Homo sapiens: one gene and its partners. The protein of the gene in region 1 purifies or fractionates together with the protein of each later gene. This does not show direct contact. Each region holds a gene or a part of one and is shown in the gene's direction. Other genes may lie near its edges.

What was found.
Region 2: the proteins of TNFRSF10B (region 1) and SLC20A1 purify together in Homo sapiens (affinity purification with mass spectrometry; 2 studies listed by BioGRID and IntAct, with this or other methods). This does not show direct contact.
Region 3: the proteins of TNFRSF10B (region 1) and SLC15A4 purify together in Homo sapiens (affinity purification with mass spectrometry; 3 studies listed by BioGRID and IntAct, with this or other methods). This does not show direct contact.
Region 4: the proteins of TNFRSF10B (region 1) and MFAP3 purify together in Homo sapiens (affinity purification with mass spectrometry; 3 studies listed by BioGRID and IntAct, with this or other methods). This does not show direct contact.

The regions. Positions count from the first base shown.
Region 1 is NC_000008.11:23,026,618-23,032,001, reverse strand, and holds part of TNFRSF10B (tumor necrosis factor receptor superfamily member 10B isoform 1 precursor), read left to right. Parts: intron 1-1,129; coding exon 1,130-1,243; intron 1,244-2,280; coding exon 2,281-2,392; intron 2,393-3,399; coding exon 3,400-3,671; intron 3,672-4,248; coding exon 4,249-4,280; intron 4,281-4,713; coding exon 4,714-4,869; intron 4,870-5,384. UniProt on the Homo sapiens protein: Receptor for the cytotoxic ligand TNFSF10/TRAIL. The adapter molecule FADD recruits caspase-8 to the activated receptor.
Region 2 is NC_000002.12:112,655,939-112,660,379, forward strand, and holds part of SLC20A1 (sodium-dependent phosphate transporter 1), read left to right. Parts: intron 1-1,183; coding exon 1,184-1,303; intron 1,304-2,886; coding exon 2,887-3,156; intron 3,157-3,265; coding exon 3,266-3,824; intron 3,825-4,441. UniProt on the Homo sapiens protein: Sodium-phosphate symporter which preferentially transports the monovalent form of phosphate with a stoichiometry of two sodium ions per phosphate ion. May play a role in extracellular matrix and cartilage calcification as well as in vascular calcification.
Region 3 is NC_000012.12:128,799,018-128,803,458, reverse strand, and holds part of SLC15A4 (solute carrier family 15 member 4), read left to right. Parts: intron 1-2,449; coding exon 2,450-2,605; intron 2,606-4,041; coding exon 4,042-4,200; intron 4,201-4,394; exon of another isoform or gene 4,395-4,441. UniProt on the Homo sapiens protein: Proton-coupled amino-acid transporter that mediates the transmembrane transport of L-histidine and some di- and tripeptides from inside the lysosome to the cytosol, and plays a key role in innate immune response.
Region 4 is NC_000005.10:154,045,467-154,049,907, forward strand, and holds part of MFAP3 (microfibril-associated glycoprotein 3 isoform 1 precursor), read left to right. Parts: intron 1-4,090; 5' UTR 4,091-4,256; coding exon 4,257-4,441. UniProt on the Homo sapiens protein: Component of the elastin-associated microfibrils.

The DNA.
Region 1 (5,384 bases):
CCAGGAGGCAGAGGTTGCAGTGAGCCGAGATCGCTGCACTCTAGCCTGGGCAACAGAGCAAGACTCCGTCTCAAAAAAAAAAAAAAAAATGCTACTGCAAATTGAGATGTGCCATGAGTTAAAATATACGCAGGATTTGAAGACGTACTGTGAAAAAAATGCTGTAAAATATCTCAATGTTTTATGTGGATTACATATTTAAGTGATATTATCTGGGGTACATTAAATTAAAATGCATTATTAACATTAATTTCACCCCTTCTCACCTTTTTTAATGTGCTGAGTGTGGATTTAAATTTCATATGTGGGCTGGGCACAGTGGCTGACACCTGTATTCCTAGCACCTTGGGAGTCCAAGGAGAGTGAATCACTTGAGCCCAGGAGTTTGAGACCAGCCTAGGCAACATGGTGAAACCTCGTCTCTACAAAAAAAAAGTACACTAAAAATTAACCCGGTGTGGTGGTGTGCACCTGTAGTCCCAGCTATTTGTGGGTCGGGGGGAGAGGGAGGGTCCGGGAGGTCGAGGGTGCAGTGAGCTGAGATCACACCACTGCACTCCAGCCTGGGCTATAGAGCAAGACCCTGTCTAAATAAATAAATAAATAAATAAATAAATAAATAAATAGGCCGGGTGCAGTGGCTCACGCCTGTAATCCCAGCACTTTGGGAGGCCTAGGCAGGCAGATCATGAGGTCAGGAGATCGAGACTAGCCTGGCCAATACGGTGAAACCCTGTCTCTACTAAAAAAATACAAAAATTAGCCAGGTGTGGTAGTGTGTGCCTGTAATCCCAGCTACTCAGGAGGCTGAGCCAGGAGAATCTCTTGAACCCAGGAGGCGGAGGTTGCAGTGAGCCGAGATCACGCCACTGCACTCCAGCCTGGGTGACAGAGTGAGACTACGTCTCAAAAATAAAAAATAAAATAAATAAATGTGTGGCTTATATTTCTTTTGGCAGTGCTGGTTTAAGGTGTGTAAATGCAGAATTGATGAACTGACCAAGCTAGGTAGAGGAGATTTCCCTCTTTTGGTTCCACACATCCCTGAAAGAGGAGTCCCCCAGCCACCACTGCCAGCTTCTGGGAATCCTGTGGCATTTCATTCACCGGCTTTTCTCTCCCCTCCCAGGACACCATATCTCAGAAGACGGTAGAGATTGCATCTCCTGCAAATATGGACAGGACTATAGCACTCACTGGAATGACCTCCTTTTCTGCTTGCGCTGCACCAGGTGTGATTCAGGTACAGAACATATGGACCCCATGCCTAAAGGTGGAATGCGGGGTGATGACATAAAAGTTGTAGCTAAAATGGGATCAGGAGACCTAGATTCTGGTCCACCTTGGTCTTCATCATACCATGTTCCATGATTTTGTCTTTGAGCTTTTTAATAAATAAAACAGGCCCGGCACAGTGGCTCATGCCTGTAATCTCAACACTTTGGGAGGCATCACTTGAGCCCAGGAGTTTGAAACCATCCTGGGCAACATGAGAAACCCCGTCTCTACAAAAATATAAACATTAGCCGGGCATGGTGGCGCGTGCCTGTATTTCCAGCTACTTAGGAAGCTGAGGCAGAAGGATCTCTTGAGCCCAGGAGGCCGAGGTTGCAGGGAGCCGAGATTGTGCCACTGCATTCCAGCCCAGGCAACAGAGCAAAACCCTGTCTCAATAATTAATTAAAATAATAATAATACAGAAATTATTTGTATAATGTATGCTACATGGTAAGGAAATCTTTTAAACTGTCAGCTGCAAGGGGGTGGGGCCATGAGCCAGGCCAAGTGGACAGGGCTGGATCTCAGCAGTGGCACAGGTCTGCTTTGGGGCCAGGCTCTCTCCCCTGGGCTCTGTGCTCCTGGCAGGTGCTCGGCCTCACTCACCCTTCAGGTTCTCAGGCCTCTCCCTCCTCCCCAGCAGGCTGGGCCTTGGGGAAGTCCCCCAAGGGCTCCTCTCCTTGCAGTCTCTCAGGTGATCCCTTGCACTTCCCTTGCTACTGGCCATGCAATCTAAACGATGCTTGTCCCCTAAACGGTGCTTTCCCCTAATCTAATGTAATAAATAATGAACTGTGGTCCTTTTGTATGACTCAACGAGTGTTAGTGACAGCTGAAGGGTGGGTATCCTGAATGAGCCATGAGTGTGCTGGTGCAGAAACTGGCCCTCAGAACTCCTTGGCAAACTGAGTTGAGCTGAGTAGCAGGGTCTTGGGGTGGGGAGGAAGGGTCAAGGGACACATCAGGAAAACACATTCCCAAAACCTTATGCTCTGTCGTCAGGTGAAGTGGAGCTAAGTCCCTGCACCACGACCAGAAACACAGTGTGTCAGTGCGAAGAAGGCACCTTCCGGGAAGAAGATTCTCCTGAGATGTGCCGGAAGTGCCGCACAGGGTGAGACAGGAGCCGGGGGCTCCCAGTAGCTCCATGGAACCCCAAAAGACCCAAGTCTCCTTGTACCCCTGTCTCTCCCCTGACAGCACCCGCAAGGGGCATCCTTGAGGCTGTGGCTGCCCCTCCTGGTCCCTCTGCGTGTCACCACCCCTGCCCCCTGCAGCAGCCTCTTTCCACCCCTCCCCAGCACGAGTCCCCTTGACCAGGCTGACTTGTTCACTGACCACAGAAGGCCATGACTTGGGGCCCATGATAATTTTAGGGGCCCATGAAATGATTTAATTTCTCTTGAAATAAGAAGAATGAGTAGAATGCAGCCAGGCATATATTCATCTTTATACCAATTCAGCAATAAAATGTATTTTTTAATATTTTTATGCATGCAGGGGCCCATAAAGACAAAAGTGCCCATGGCCCACAAAAGGCATAATAAGGCCATGGGTGGAGCTCCTTCAAGTTCCCATGAGGACCTGAGCCCACCCAGCCGGCCTCACCCCTGGCCCCTGATCCCTCAGTAAGACCTGTCTTTTCCCTATTTGGGTTTTAGGGGCCAAGAGTAATTTGCTCTTCTCTGGCCCCCCTAGTATTTGCTGTGATTGGGGGAAATGGGCAGACAGCTGGGGACAAGAGCTCACTTTTGTGGTTGACTGGAAGACCGGACTCATCTTGTGGCCACACGGGCTTGTGACCTTCCCCTGGAGTGTGATTGCTCCTAACGCAGGCCTCCCCTGCAGCCCAGGGAAGCTCAGTGTGTGCCCAGCACAGAAGGCTCCTGGAACTGCAGCTCTGACCCCAGAGCAGGGAGGCCGAGGGGCTGAAGTGCGCATGCTCAGACCCTTCCCCAGCCTCAAGAAGGGAGCACAGGGGGACCCACTGCTGACACGAGGAGACTGTCCTTCCCCTGACACCTTCTCAGGGACACTGGGGAGGGAGGGTGGCTCCTCTTTCATCCCACCTGGCCAGCTTTCCATCAAGAGTCCCCCCTCTCCCTCTGTGTGTGTACCCAGGTGTCCCAGAGGGATGGTCAAGGTCGGTGATTGTACACCCTGGAGTGACATCGAATGTGTCCACAAAGAATCAGGTACAAAGCACAGTGGGGAAGTCCCAGCTGTGGAGGAGACGGTGACCTCCAGCCCAGGGACTCCTGCCTCTCCCTGTTCTCTCTCAGGCATCATCATAGGAGTCACAGTTGCAGCCGTAGTCTTGATTGTGGCTGTGTTTGTTTGCAAGTCTTTACTGTGGAAGAAAGTCCTTCCTTACCTGAAAGGCATCTGCTCAGGTAGGTGCTGGCTGAGGGCGGGGGCACAGGGCACTCTCTGCCCTGCCCCCTCCCACCCTATTCCCACAGACAGAAACGCCTGCCCCTGCCCCAAGTCTAAGTGCCTCCAGCCTGGCTCTATCCTCCTCCTCGTGGTCACCCCCATCCCCACATCCCGTGCACCCCCCAGGACCCTGGTCTCTTCAGTCCCTCTCCCAGGTCTGGGGGTCCCCATATCTCCCAGCCAAGTCCAGGAGGGCAGGGCCAGTTCCTCCCATCTTCAGGCCCAGCCAGGCAGGGGGCAGTCGGCTCCTCAACTGGGTGACAAGGGTGAGGATGAGAAGTGGTCGTGGGATTTTTTCAGCCTTGGTCAGAGCAGAACCAGAGATTTTCCAAGTGTTTGTTTTTACTCTAGTTCCCCTTCTCATCCCCCTTCCTCAGGGTGTCTCTGAGTTGTAAGGCCCCATTCTGTCCCCAGCCCCAGGGCTCCTTGTCCAGTGTCCCAGCCCCCAGCCCAGCCCTGCGCCCCACTGTCCTCTGGGAGGGGGGTGCTTCATGGGCCCCTCCCTTCCTGCTAAGGAGACTGCTTCTTTTTTAGGTGGTGGTGGGGACCCTGAGCGTGTGGACAGAGTGAGTTGATTTCTCCAGGAGCTGGGGGCTCAGGGGTTCAGGAACTGCTTCCTGGGACAGCAGAACCTGGGTGGGTGGGTCCCCATTGTCCTCATGGCTGCCCTGACTCTCTGAAGTGGCCTGGGTGCTCTGGGCTGACTGTGGGGGACACATGGCCATTTTGAGCACCACATAGGCTGGTGAGCCCTGCTGCAGCCCAGGTGACATCCTCACCCCACAGCCTGCACCCTAGGGATGGGGTGTCTGCCTGAGCACAGCACTGGGGGCCTGGCCCCAGCAGCGGGTCCTGGATGTGCTGAGTCTGGGCTGCCTGCGGTGACCTCACTGAGAGGGGGTGGGGATGTCAGGTGCAGCTGCATACTGAGGACCCTGCAGCGAGCCCTAGGTGTGGACTCCTGAGTCGGCTTTTTGCCTTCCCAATGTCTTTTTCCAGAGCTCACAACGACCTGGGGCTGAGGACAATGTCCTCAATGAGATCGTGAGTATCTTGCAGCCCACCCAGGTCCCTGAGCAGGAAATGGAAGTCCAGGAGCCAGCAGAGCCAACAGGTGTCAACATGTTGTCCCCCGGGGAGTCAGAGCATCTGCTGGTGAGTGGGGGACAGATCATTTTGTTTCCTGGCATGCTGCTCACCTGGGATTTCGTAGACAGTGGGAGAGGGCAGTGCCTTAGCTCTCCTGGCCCAGGGGAAATGGAACCTGAAGGAGCCAGGGGACTGCAGGGGATGGAGCAGCTGCACTGAGGTGGTGACCGTGCCAGTCTGCAGGACATCTGCTTCTTACTCCCTGTCCTGTCCTTGCTGTGTCCCCCGAGCCTGGAGCTCCACAGGCATAGAGTGGGGGTCACAGGGTTCATTGATGAGTGAATAAGGCTGCACAGTCTCCATCGTATGCTCCTAACAGAAGTCAGTGAGCCCTTGCTTGTAACAGCAGGAGTTTTAAATTTACTCTGAAATTGTTATTACATTGAACATATTTCAAAGTTCGTAGGGCAGCTTCCAAAAAGTAGGATTCCAAGTCGATGCACAAAGGGCTTTTGTATTGGACACACGCACACAATCAGTTCATATCAATCCATCAGTTTTGATGTGATATTGAGTAGGCA
Region 2 (4,441 bases), on another chromosome or scaffold:
GCTCCACCTGTCTCAGCCTCCCAAAGTGCTGGGATTACAGGTGTGAGCCACTGTGCCTGGCCAGTGCTTTACTTCTGTCTTTAGTACAGGCTAATGGTTTGGAGCCTACTGGCGTGCATATGACAGTCAGATAATGACTAATATTACTCATTCTTAAACCATGTGAACAGTGTTGCTAGGCAAGTCTTTTTTTAAGGTAAGACTTGTAAGTGAAATTACCACTAAACTTTGTGTGTGAGAAAGACAAAACTTTTTTTTTTTTTTTTTTTTTTTTTGAGACAAAGTCTGACTTTGTCACCCAGGCTGGAGTGCAGTGGCGCAATCTCAGCTCACTGCAACCTCCGCCCTGCCAGGTTCAAGTGATTCTCCCACCTCAGCCTCCCGAGTAGCTGGGACTACAGGCGCCCACCACCATGCCCGGCTAATTTTTTTTTGTATTTTTAGTAGAGATGGGGTTTTGCCATGTTGGGCAGGCTGGTCTCGAACTCCTGACCTCAAGTGATCTGCCTGCCACGGCCTCCCAAAGTGCTGGGATTACAGGCATGAGCCACCGTGCCTGGCTGAAAGACAAAGCTTTTACAACTATTCTTAAATTATCAACTTTTGATAGATAATATCCTTGTTTTCTGTATCTTGCTTTGATACTGCTTTCAAGGAGATAATCTCATTAAAGCATTTTACTAAAGGCCAGTATAGTGAATGTAATCACTTTTACACAGAATTGTGTCAGCATGACAAATGTGACTACTGAGACATCATTCTGTTAACATTAAAATAAGTTTGTAGGTGGTAATGGAATATGTGGCAGTTACGATCATGAGCTAGGAGAGTGGAACACTTGCTGTCTTTTTCATAGCTAGTCATAGGTCCTTAGCGTGTAGTGATCTTTATTATCTTCCAAGGTGAAGAAAGGAAAAGGCTCGTATGTTGAGAAGCATAGGAACTTGAGTCCCGCAGGTGTTCAAGTGGGCTAGGCTGGTGTGGGTTTTCAGATGATCATTGAGTTTTTCTCCCAAATTTGTATAGGCACTAGCACAGTAATCCTGTGCACTTAAATCTGGCAGCAGCTGTCAGGGGTGATGGGCTGGTATGGGGAACCCCTCAGTCCCCAGAGGAGGGTTTACACAATATTGCAGGGGGCTGTTGCCCTGGGGTTTTCAAGATGCACCATTTTATCTCCTAGTGCTGGGCTTTGACAAACTTCCTCTGTGGGGTACCATCCTCATCTCGGTGGGATGTGCAGTTTTCTGTGCCCTTATCGTCTGGTTCTTTGTATGTCCCAGGATGAAGAGAAAAATTGAACGTAAGTAATAACTAAACAGCAGAAAAGTTTAACTACTAATGTTGTGTTTATTTTTTATTTGGCCACCTGTAAAAATCTATTAGAAGAGATTGGCAAAATAAGAGATTTTAAAGGGAAATTTGAGGATATGGGTTTGTTGTCCAAACTGTTTTTAGAAATGGACTTACATGACCTAAGACCTGTTCTTAAAAATGGACTTACATGACCTAAGACCTAGTGATAAAGAGTATTCAACCTATGCTGTAGAGACAATCTGGGGCATTGAATTTTTTTATGTTCCTTGATCAGTTGCCAGTGACATGATAGATAAATAGAGAAATCATAGCCTACATTTACTGAGAAGTAGAAGGATACCTTAATGAAAAATAAGGGGTAGATACAAGATATTTTCGTAGAGGAAATATTTACCCCAACTGCTTCTGTGTATAACTTCAGATTCAGACAAGCAAAGCTAAGTCTAATGTGTACATGTTGTATATAGGCTAGAATACATGTAGACATTGTATTGCAGTATACAATGCAAATACATATACAAACACACATTGTGTGTCTGCTAGAATTGTAGCACAGATTCTAGAAGTAAACATTTTCAAGTGTCAAGGAATCATTTAGGCCATTACCACACACTCATGTAATTAAATACTGAGTAAATTTTGGTTAGTATCGGACTTTTTTTTCCTTAAAATAATCATTTTCTGCCCTTTTCATCGATGTGAAGGCTGGGTTAGCAAGTTGAAGTTTATCGTTTCGAAGCTGAGGGATGCATAGACTGCAGTGGTGTTAGGAAGAACGCTGCGTCACCGCAGCTGAACCGAAGAGCCTCCGAGAGGTTCTGTGCTAGTCTGGCTGTGCCGAGTGCACGGTGGGAACCAGGCTTTCAGGACTCTCTGGCCTCATTTTCCCTCTCTGGGAGGAGTTGAGACAAGTCTTGCTTTATGTTAGTCAGTCTGTAGTTTGACTGAGGTGCCTGGATGGATAGGTCAGCATACTGAGCACTGGCATGAGAGAGGCAGAAGATACTCTGGTCTGCCTGTGGGATTTACAGCCATGATGCACATCTCTTTGTTTTATAGAGGTGGAAATTAAAGTTGTCGTCTTTAGTTCCCTGCATTGAGCTGTGCCACTTTGCTTGAATTGGTGGACTGAAATTTGAGAGAATCCTCTTTTGAAAAGAATAGAATTGGGTACAGTTCAGATTTTTAGTTTCAGCTTATCAGCCCCATGGTTGAGCTACTTTCCCCTACAGAATGAGTCAGCAGGGAGCTAAGAAGGGTTCTTATATCTGTAAAGGGTTGTAAAAATAAAAACAAAACAACAATGTGCTACAGAAGCCCGTAAAACCTAAAATATTTACAGAAAAATTTTGGGACCCCTGACATAGGGTGTTCTGCATTGCTGGTTGTTCCCAAGTGAGAGTTGCTGGCAAATGATAAAGCAGGCAGGAAAAATGTTCCTGAATGTTAATTGAAGTTCACATACATTCTTGTTTTGAGATGAGTTTTTTGGGGGTGGAGGAAAGGAGACGTGGAACAAAGTAGTATGGCCACAACCAAACCAAAAAAGACCCCCCTTTTTTTTCCTAGGAGAAATAAAGTGTAGTCCTTCTGAAAGCCCCTTAATGGAAAAAAAGAATAGCTTGAAAGAAGACCATGAAGAAACAAAGTTGTCTGTTGGTGATATTGAAAACAAGCATCCTGTTTCTGAGGTAGGGCCTGCCACTGTGCCCCTCCAGGCTGTGGTGGAGGAGAGAACAGTCTCATTCAAACTTGGAGATTTGGAGGAAGCTCCAGAGAGAGAGAGGCTTCCCAGCGTGGACTTGAAAGAGGAAACCAGCATAGATAGCACCGTGAATGGTGAGTTGGAATTCCTGGTTTCACTTTTGTTACCTGCAGTGGTGAGGAGGCTTATTGTTTTGGATTTGATGCTTTTTGTATTGAATGTCACCTTGGTGATCTTGACTAGGTGCAGTGCAGTTGCCTAATGGGAACCTTGTCCAGTTCAGTCAAGCCGTCAGCAACCAAATAAACTCCAGTGGCCACTACCAGTATCACACCGTGCATAAGGATTCCGGCCTGTACAAAGAGCTACTCCATAAATTACATCTTGCCAAGGTGGGAGATTGCATGGGAGACTCCGGTGACAAACCCTTAAGGCGCAATAATAGCTATACTTCCTATACCATGGCAATATGTGGCATGCCTCTGGATTCATTCCGTGCCAAAGAAGGTGAACAGAAGGGCGAAGAAATGGAGAAGCTGACATGGCCTAATGCAGACTCCAAGAAGCGAATTCGAATGGACAGTTACACCAGTTACTGCAATGCTGTGTCTGACCTTCACTCAGCATCTGAGATAGACATGAGTGTCAAGGCAGAGATGGGTCTAGGTGACAGAAAAGGAAGTAATGGCTCTCTAGAAGAATGGTATGACCAGGATAAGCCTGAAGTCTCTCTCCTCTTCCAGTTCCTGCAGATCCTTACAGCCTGCTTTGGGTCATTCGCCCATGGTGGCAATGACGTAAGGTCAGTTGACATTGATCTTAGTGTTGCTAACCCTATTTTTAAACCATTTATCCTTGTCACAGGCCTGTGCTTGTGGTAGTGGTACTCCTAGCATTTACAGGACCCCAAATAATACAAATAGGATGAGGTAATAGCAGTTATTGACATAATAAGACAGTACAGTTTTATTCTTCAGAGGAATTACAAAGAATGTTTATTTTTGTAGATGATAAATATAAACAGATACTCTTCACAGAGAAGGCTTTTGTCCATCAAGATGAGATTCAGTTCTTTGGTAGTGAATTGTGGGATGTAAGATGTAAGATGAAAAACTTAAAAGTTTTTCATATAGAATGATTTTGTAGTTTGGTTTGTAAACTGTTTATTGGAACCTGAGAGTTGCTTTAAGCTGCCTATAGGAGGAAAGAGGCCACCATTTGCCTGGCATTCCCTCCATCAGAGCTGTGTTCATTTTTCTGTTGTGTATGTTGGGGTTCCATTTATGTCTTTAGAAAGAAAGGCCCTTTTGCCAGATGAGCTTGAAAGCTGTACTTTAGACAACCTGGTAGATCATTCAGCAGATTGGGTCTTGCCAAGATCTAGTTCTGCCTGAAAAGTCACTTCTGCCCTCTTTGTTT
Region 3 (4,441 bases), on another chromosome or scaffold:
GTTATTTCTCCCCCCAGCTTACTGTGAATAATAAATGAGGTGCTGTCTGTGAATCCATCAACAAAAGCGGCTCATCACACAAGGAACAATTCATACATGGCACCTATTGGTTATTTTGGTTTTTGATTCTTTTTCTCTCTTCTTGGTATTTTTGTTGACACCTCTTCCCTTTATGATTGTTTGTCTGATACATCCTGGCCTGTCCTCTCCTTTATTTACAATCTTTGGGTTATATTATGCTTTAGTTCTGTGTATTAACCGTAATACTCAGTTTTGTTTATTTTTTGAACTGATACAAGTGGATGACTTTTATCTGAAGGATTTGGCTCATTTATCCTGACTGCTGTGTTGATTATCCAGCGTCGCATCCCATGCTTGTTTTTACTGGGTGCCCGCTTGCCATGTCACTGTCACTCAGCCTGAACCCTGCTGCTTTTCGGCCTGTCCCAGCCTCTCCAGGGCTCTCAGTTGTTCACAGGCAGGGTCATTTTCCCCATTGGCTTTGCCTCTCCGCCTCGCTCGTGACTGGGGGCACCCGTCCCGATCCTGGTTTCCGCAGTGTTGGCTGTGTGTGCGCCTTTGCCGCTGCTCATCTCTCTGCCAACAGCCTCACCAATAATCAGGCCTATTTATTTTCTCATTTTCTCTTCTCCTAATTCTTGATCTCATCATTTGTGTCTCTCTTAAGCCAACGTCCCCTTAATTTCTTTGTTACCTTTTTCATCCTTAGTCTTCAGAGTCTGTGTTTTCTTGAATAATAAGACAAGTTCTCTGGTAGAACTATGCCAGTAGCAATAGTAGTATCTTTCCCATTCAGGTTATAAAATCTACTTATTGTCCTCCGCATGAGTAACCTTCCCTTGTCCCGCCCCCTGCAGACACTTTGGTGTCATCCTTAGGCTCTCCTCCTCTCCTGTGAAGGAGAAAAGTGGTATTCAGCTTTCGTGTTTATTTCCAAAATAGACCTGAATTTCTGCTTGAGTTGCATAGGTTCTGTTCCCATTCAAGGAGTGGGGACCAGTGTAGTCAGCTATGGTCCCAGGGGAGCAGGTGGGAGCTGAGGACCTTGGGTGTCTAGGGGAAGCCATTGTCACACAGTTCATTCTTCGTGTTTGAAGGCGCTGATGCCAGGGCTAGGGGTGCAGTGCTATGGTTGCTGTCAGCTGCCCTGTCGGGAGGAAGGCTGTCATTTGGGGACAGTCCCTATTGTCACTACCAGCCTTGCCTGATTAAGATGCCCTCAGATGCCCTTTCCAGAACAACTAAGGGCTCTAAATAGTTTGCTGTCCTTGCCTGGGTCTGCGTTTATGTTTCTCCCGTGGAGGGCGGAGTGGAAGGATTGGGTTTCCCTTGACACTCTTCCAGGGTGGGGCTGCAGGTTTTCTGATGGAAGTAAGCTGTGGGTTGGCTCGAAGGTCTCTCTCTACTTTGATCCTGGAGAATGTTTTCACTTTGCTTGGCATTTCAGTTGAGATTTGAGGTGGAAATTCCAGAGTTTGTGTTCTCATCGCCCTATGGATCATATCCTGGTCCTTTCTCATGCTCAGGTTTTAGAAGGAACATTTTTAATATTTTCATTCCATTGCCCTCTGACCAGACCTTTCTTCATACTCATGTTTTAAAATAAACATATTTTACATACGCTTTAAATATTAGGGCCTGTGACCTAATTTGCAATAAGAATTCTTTATAAAATAAAACTTGGTGGTATCTTTAACCTAAGGACTTGGACCTGCGAATAGATGCTTTTACACTTTATTTCCAGTGGCTGATTTTTGTTTATAGAGTAGGAGCTGCTGCCCTTGCTTGTTTTTCTCATGTCTTTCTGTTACACTTGATAGGTGACCAGTAACTTAGCCTGCACCTGCAGTGAGATCTCAATGCTGCTGAGAGCACAGGTTGATTTGTGAAGTCAGCTTACTTTGTTGCAAAGATTAAGCCTACCCTATGCAGGGAAACCAACATCATCATCATCATTATTATCATCATTTGTTGTTATAATAATAAATCAGTAGATCACCTTCGATCCATCACTATGATTGGAAGAACATCTCAGTATTACCTGCTGTTGGGTAAAATAGCACTACTGTTAATTCTACAGTAGGACTTTTTAACTTTCTCCTACTCCCCTTTGTAAGAGACAAACGAGGTATGGGTGAGCAATCCAGATATTTGAGGATTAAATGAAACATGTTGAACATCTGATTTTATATAAGATGCTGTAAAAAGCCGAAGTGAAATAGGTGTGCTATGCCATGACCTCCACTCAGCCTGCTTAGGAGGCTGAAGGCTGGGGGCCTATTAGTCCTGGGGGAAGCTGTGATTAGACGTGGTCCTTTCACGCATCAGAATCACGTTTGCTACGAAGTCTCGTAGCCAACATCAGATTTTTAGATTAACTGTAAATGTTAATAAATGAATATTACACTAACCTACTTTTGAATTCTAGGAATTTTGGAGAGTAAAAGGCTGAACCTTGTTAAAGAGAAAACCATTAATCAGACCATCGGCAACGTCGTCTACCATGCTGCCGATCTGTCGCTGTGGTGGCAGGTGCCGCAGTACTTGCTGATTGGGATCAGCGAGATCTTTGCAAGTATCGCAGGTGAGGACCTTTAGTGCCGGAGGTGTCTGAGTCCAGGCACAAGCGTGAGCGCTCGGGCATTCTGACTGTGCTGTTGGAATATGTTGAGACAAGGATAGCACAGCACTTCTGTAGTTTTTGGCAGTGTGTGGTTTAGAATATGAATCGCTAGGTAAACACACCAGTGCTGAGGTTCTCCATTCTTTGTGTAAAAACAGTATCGCAAAATATTTTCATGAAAGTTTGTTAACTACCTTGTAAGTGCCACAGGACAGAGAAGAAGAAAGCAATCGTGGTTGGATAGTTCCCAGCGGAGCCCTCGGCCATGCTGCCGTGGTGGCTGGGCTGAGCTCACAGCTCTCAGTGCGCTTCGTTTAGATGTACGTAAAGAAGCAGATCTAATTTTTAGAAACGTGTTCTCACAGGCCTCCCTTTTCCTATTAGTGAGATCCTGCAGTGGTTGAACAAGTGTATTCTGGGCAGATCTGTCCGGCTGCTGAGAGTGAGAGAGAAGAGAAGATGAGTGATATGCAGAGGTGGATGGATGTGTGGGTAGTAGTCAGTGGTGGTTTTCACTGTAGAAAACTCATCCAGAATTGGCTAATGAATTTGTAAAGGGAATAAATCACAACGGAATGGACTTCTATTTAGAATACACTACAAATCTCCGTGTCTAGTTATAAAAATCTAAATTTATAGATGGGCCTGCCAAAATAGTTTTGAAGTCTATTGCCCTTGTCACGGTGGCTCATACCTGTAACCCCAGCACTTTAGGAATCCGAGGCGGGTGGATCACCTGAGGTCAGGAGTTCGAGACCAGCCTGGCCAACATGGTGAATCCCTGTCTCTACTAAAAATACAAAAAATTAGCCAGGCATGGTGGCACGCACCTGTAATCCCAGCTACTCGGGAGGCTGAGGCAGGAGAATCGCTTGAACCAGGGAGGCGGAAGTTGCGGTGAGCCAAGATCCTGCCATTGCACTCCAGCCTGGGCAACAAGAGCAAAACTCCGTCTCAACAAAAAAAAGATAAAGTATATTGCCTCTGAAATAGAATCCTTATGTAGATTTCCCAGTTTAGTGTGTGTACTTTGTTTTCAAACTCCCATTCCTTGACAATATAGGAAAATTTTTTCTCTAATCTCTTTAAGGAACACAAAAGTCTAAGAGCCAACAAATCACATTACCTTTAAGCTTGAGAGCAAGGAGTTTAACTTTCTGCTCATTGAATTTATTAGGAATTATCCTAATGGCTAGGAGAATGAACAGTTGGCCCATAGCCATTGATTCTTGGTCGCTAGTAAGCATCGTCCTCCTAATAGAAAAGAGGTTGTGCCTGTCTGCAGGACTCAGTCCCTAGGAGACCCCACGCTTCCTCTGCTATATTAGGTGAAAGCTTTGATCCCATGTGTTAAAGTGCCCCTTTCACAAAAACGACCCTCCCTTTTCTTTCCTCAGGCCTGGAATTTGCATACTCAGCTGCCCCCAAGTCCATGCAGAGTGCCATAATGGGCTTGTTCTTTTTCTTCTCTGGCGTCGGGTCGTTCGTGGGTTCTGGACTGCTGGCACTGGTGTCTATCAAAGCCATCGGATGGATGAGCAGTCACACAGACTTTGGTAAGAGCCAGCATCCTGTCCCTTTTGAAAATAGCCAGTGAGGGGGAGGCGCAGGCACTCAGGAGATGGCTGAGTGAGCGGAGGTGTTTTCACGTGGATGGCCTGTCCCGAGCTGCCTGTCCACCGCTCCTTCCACAGCACTGCTCTGTGCTGCTTGCATCACTGTGTTTCCTTACATCATGAACGGTTTTCAGGAGACAAGCAGGCCTCTCTTCTCATCCCAGGGGCCAAGCCTGCCCTG
Region 4 (4,441 bases), on another chromosome or scaffold:
TCCCCCCAACCCCCAAGATTTTTAAATGGTTGCATGGTATTCTGAGTGTTTTATAATGATGTAACTATCAAATGTAAATTTTAGTTCAATATCTGAAAGAACCATGAACAATAATAATAGAGCTTATTCAGTGATTACCATTGCCAGACTCTGTGTTTTATGTATACTACCTCATTCAGACTTTGCAATAATCCTGTGAGAATAGATTCTGTTATTTTGCCCATTTTAAAGATGAGGGGCTGAGGCAGGGAGATTAAGTCATTTATAAAAGTTGCAAGGCTGGTTAGAGTCACAGATCGTATTTGAATCCTATACTCTGAACCTCTCTGCTACCCTGCTCTTATTAGAGACCTTCAATTTTGCTGATCTAGAGTAATCTAAATCTAGAATGGAATGTGAGTGATTATATCTCTCATTGGAAATATTCAAATAGCCTGAAGCACCATTCTGCAGGTCAGTTGCAGAGGAAATTGAGGAACTGTATTAGTGGCCCTTAGATGCAGTACATGAATCCAATGCCTCAGAAACACCCAGGGAGCCAATTAAAAGTCATAAATTCCAAGGCGCAAACACAGAGTTTCTTACTCGTTCTGGGTTGGGACCTGGGAATCCATATTTTTAAAAAGCTCTCCTGACAGTTGTGATATTCAACCTGGTTTGGAAACTGCACTTGGTGATCTTTTATTCCTACCATTATCCTCTAGGACAACATGGTAAATGAAGGTATCAGGTTGGGAGTCGGAAGAATGCATTTAATTAGGTACTTTTAAGGTCTTCCAAGATTGTTAGCATTGACTGTTTTTGTTTCAGAGAATTTATAATAGGCAACTGTATGTCAGTTTGAACAATTATAATCCCTGTTGCATAACATTATTCAATTTATAAAGATCTGTCACATACTGAATCAAATTTAAACTAATCTCCATCAATATTTATTGAGCATGTGCTAGTTATGACGTACAGCAATAAAAAATATAGGCCTTGTTCTTAAGGGGTAGTTGAGATGGGATAGACTGCCTAGCAGTACAGAGCAGCATATACCAGCGCCAGATGAGTACGGTAGGTGGGGAGGGCTCTGGGGTGAAGGAGAAGCCATCCTTTATACAGCTATACTCTGAATTTATGTAGGAGGAATAGCTAAGGCCTTGATAGGAGGTTCAGGAAGTTTGCGGGAAGGCAGAATTCCATGTGGGAGTTATGCTTTGCCAAGCCTTGTGTTGGTGAGGACACTCATTGCCCTGCAGCCCTCGCCTGTGACAGCTGTTCATTCTGCTGAAGTTCCTGAATCTCAGAGCAGGAAGACCGAATCCATTTCCTTTCTTTCCAGTTTCTTCTACACTAGCTACTTTGATCCTGGGGGGATGTGACCATACCCCCAGGTGATCTGCCCACGTTTGAGCCTCTCAGTTGTTTGACGTCTTCATCATGGACGAATATCTCCCTCACTCACTTCAGCCACTGCAGCTTCCGGAGTCTATCTCCAGTTTCACCATTGGCCCAGTTAGTTCTCCTCCAGAATCAGGAATCAGACGCAGCATTTTTGGCCACTGCCTGTCTTTACCACAATTTTTTAGCTGTTTTTTGTGAACAACTCCTGACCAGTGACCCCTCTCATTTTTCCCTGTCTCCTGGCCCTCTACCTTGAGTGCTTTCCTCCCAATTTTTATTCCTCTTTATTCTTCAGGTCCTGCACCTGAAGAATAGGTGCTGCACACCTCTTTTTCTCAGAGGCTTTCCATGATGAGATTAACTCCCCATGTTGGGTCCTCCTGTAGCATCTGTATTTTCCCTTGGGTAACATTGAGTTTATTTTGTATATATGTAGTTAGTGTCCATCATCTGCCAGACTGAACTTCGTGGAGGCCGAGACAATGTCTATGGGGCAGTAGGTAGGCACATGGTAGGTGCTCAATAGATACTGTTCAGTATATGAAAATGTATCCCTCCGATCTCAAACTCAGTGGTGGGGAAGAGTAGAAAGGAAGGAGATGGCAGGTTAAGAAATGAGGTGGCATTAAAATAAACTGGAGTTGTGGGGGGCTTTTTGTTTTGGTTTTGGTTTTACTACAGAGAGAGCAAGCCTCCAGCTCAAAGCCTTTCAGCAGGCAGTAGTATCTCTGGAAGCTAATAACACTTCTTTGTTTTCATTATGTTTATGTGTACGGTTACATTTGTCCACAGAACTGATGTAGAGTTTCCTTTTTAAATAAATGTGAAAGTAAAAATAAAATGAGTTGATTTAAAAGAAAAGCAGAAATGACGATAATTTGGTTCATGGATATAGTAAAAACAACAACAACAAAAAAGACAGGAGAAGGAATGAATGAAGTTTGGGAAGTGCTGCCCTGGATGAAGCTATAGGAACTCCTAATCAAAGTTCTGGAGAAAGCCTGGAGCATTTTTTCAGCACACTCATAGCCTGTCACCGTTGAGAACCACTAATCTAGAATAAAGTACAAAATTATGTCCTCCAATTGCTGTATATCTTGCAGTGAAAAAGAGCTTGGAAACTTACATGTCAAGCCCCTAGCACAGTGCTTGGCTGATGGCAGTCATTCAATAAATGTTATTTCCATTGTTTCTACCCATCACCCCCTCTTAAAAAAGAGACTGTATTCCAAACTAGATTCTCCTACTAACTTGTAGCATGTCGTAAGAAGCAAATCACTGTGCACTGAATCAATTAGATTATATTACTTCCAAAATCCCCTCTCTGCCTAAGTCTTTGTTTCCTTTAGTGTCCTTTTTGTGCGGTTTTAGGAGGAAATGGAAATAAACACGTTTAGTGTGTCATGTATTGCCAAAGTCTGAAGGTTTTTTATTTTACTCTGTATACCCCATCCTTAAATTGTAAAGATTTAGAAAAGTATTTGTCACCATTCAACCATCCTTTCAAGGGTTAATTAATGAAAATTAAATGACATTTGCACCGTATTGTAATTTAGACTTTGAGATATTTAATGGCAAAATACAGTGATTCATTGTTTTTTATGTTCTGTGATCAAGCAGCCTTCATATAAATATAAAGGAGAGTAAATGTCATTTCCAAAACTAATTATCTTGGTGCTTTATAAGACATAAAGCTAGGCATTTCATCCCATATTTTATAGAAATAAAAGTTGAATTTTTTCTTTGAGAGTTGGTGGCTTAAAGGGGGAGTCAAATTACCAGGAAGGTGATCATAAATACATAGACTTTTGGACTAGGATGTTATTTTGCCTTTTATTCAAGATATTTTGCTCTTCTTTTAAATGTGTCTAACAATCTGTCCCTGTAGTTTTATATTTGCATTTCTACTAACTAGACACTTAAGATGTCAGTTCCTCCCTTAGCTAGTTTACAGAGTTTGAGCTAGAAATTTGGTATGCTTACAAACTATTAAATACACTGTACTTTGTCTCTTCGTATTGGAGAAACTATTAAAAGAAAATTCTGTTGTCTAATGTTCTTGCCCATGAAGGAGGTTCCATAGCTTTAGAAGTCAATAACTCTATTTATGTGTATGCAGTAAGTGCAGCTTTCTTTCCAGTGTTAAAACAACCCACCTCAGGTGTCCCTGCATTATTTATATGTAACATATCTTCATACTTGAATTACTCAAATTTTGAGCTCCATGGTTATGATTATGATATGCCAGTTGATTTACATTATAACAACAGATGGTAATGGTGCAGGTTGAAATAAAAGATCATTAAGATAAATATTTTAGCCTTCATTGGCTCCCTGTTGCATAAAATTTGTCAGAATGAAATAGAATCATGGCATTTCAGAATTGGAAGAGTCCTTAGAGATTATCTCATCCAGTCCCTTATTTGACAGAGGAGAAAACAGAAACCCAGAGAGAATGCTGCTTGCCAAGGTCGTACAGCTAGTTAGTGGCAAAGCTAGGACCAAAATCTAGGTCTGCTATTTACCAATTCATTGCTTTTTCTGCTGTCTCTGTGTGAGATTTTTAGGTACTGTTCCATCTAATTACTCCCCAATGTCAGCACCAATTATTCTAATTAACATCTATTCATTCTGGAACATACGCACTTTCACCCCATTATGAATCTCAGTTGGTTAAACTTTGTATCTGGCTTTCTTTTAGGTTCTCTACTCACATCTTTTAATCTTGAAGACTAGAAAATATAACTGGATCTACCACTTGTTTGGAAAATTTCTCTACCAAGCAATAAATTACCCGCTGTGCTTTTGTTGTAGTGTAGAAGTTTTTGAGTTCTCCAAATCTAAACAAGATTTTGTCCCATTTTCCCATGAAGCTACATTGTTGCTTATTCACTTTAGTGGCAAGTATTATTGTGCCAGCTGCTTTTGTTTTGGAAGATGTGGACTTCGACCAAATGGTTTCACTGGAAGCAAATCGTAGTTCTTACAATGCATCCTTTCCCTCAAGCTTTGAACTCTCAGCAAGTTCCCACTCGGATGATGATGTCATCAT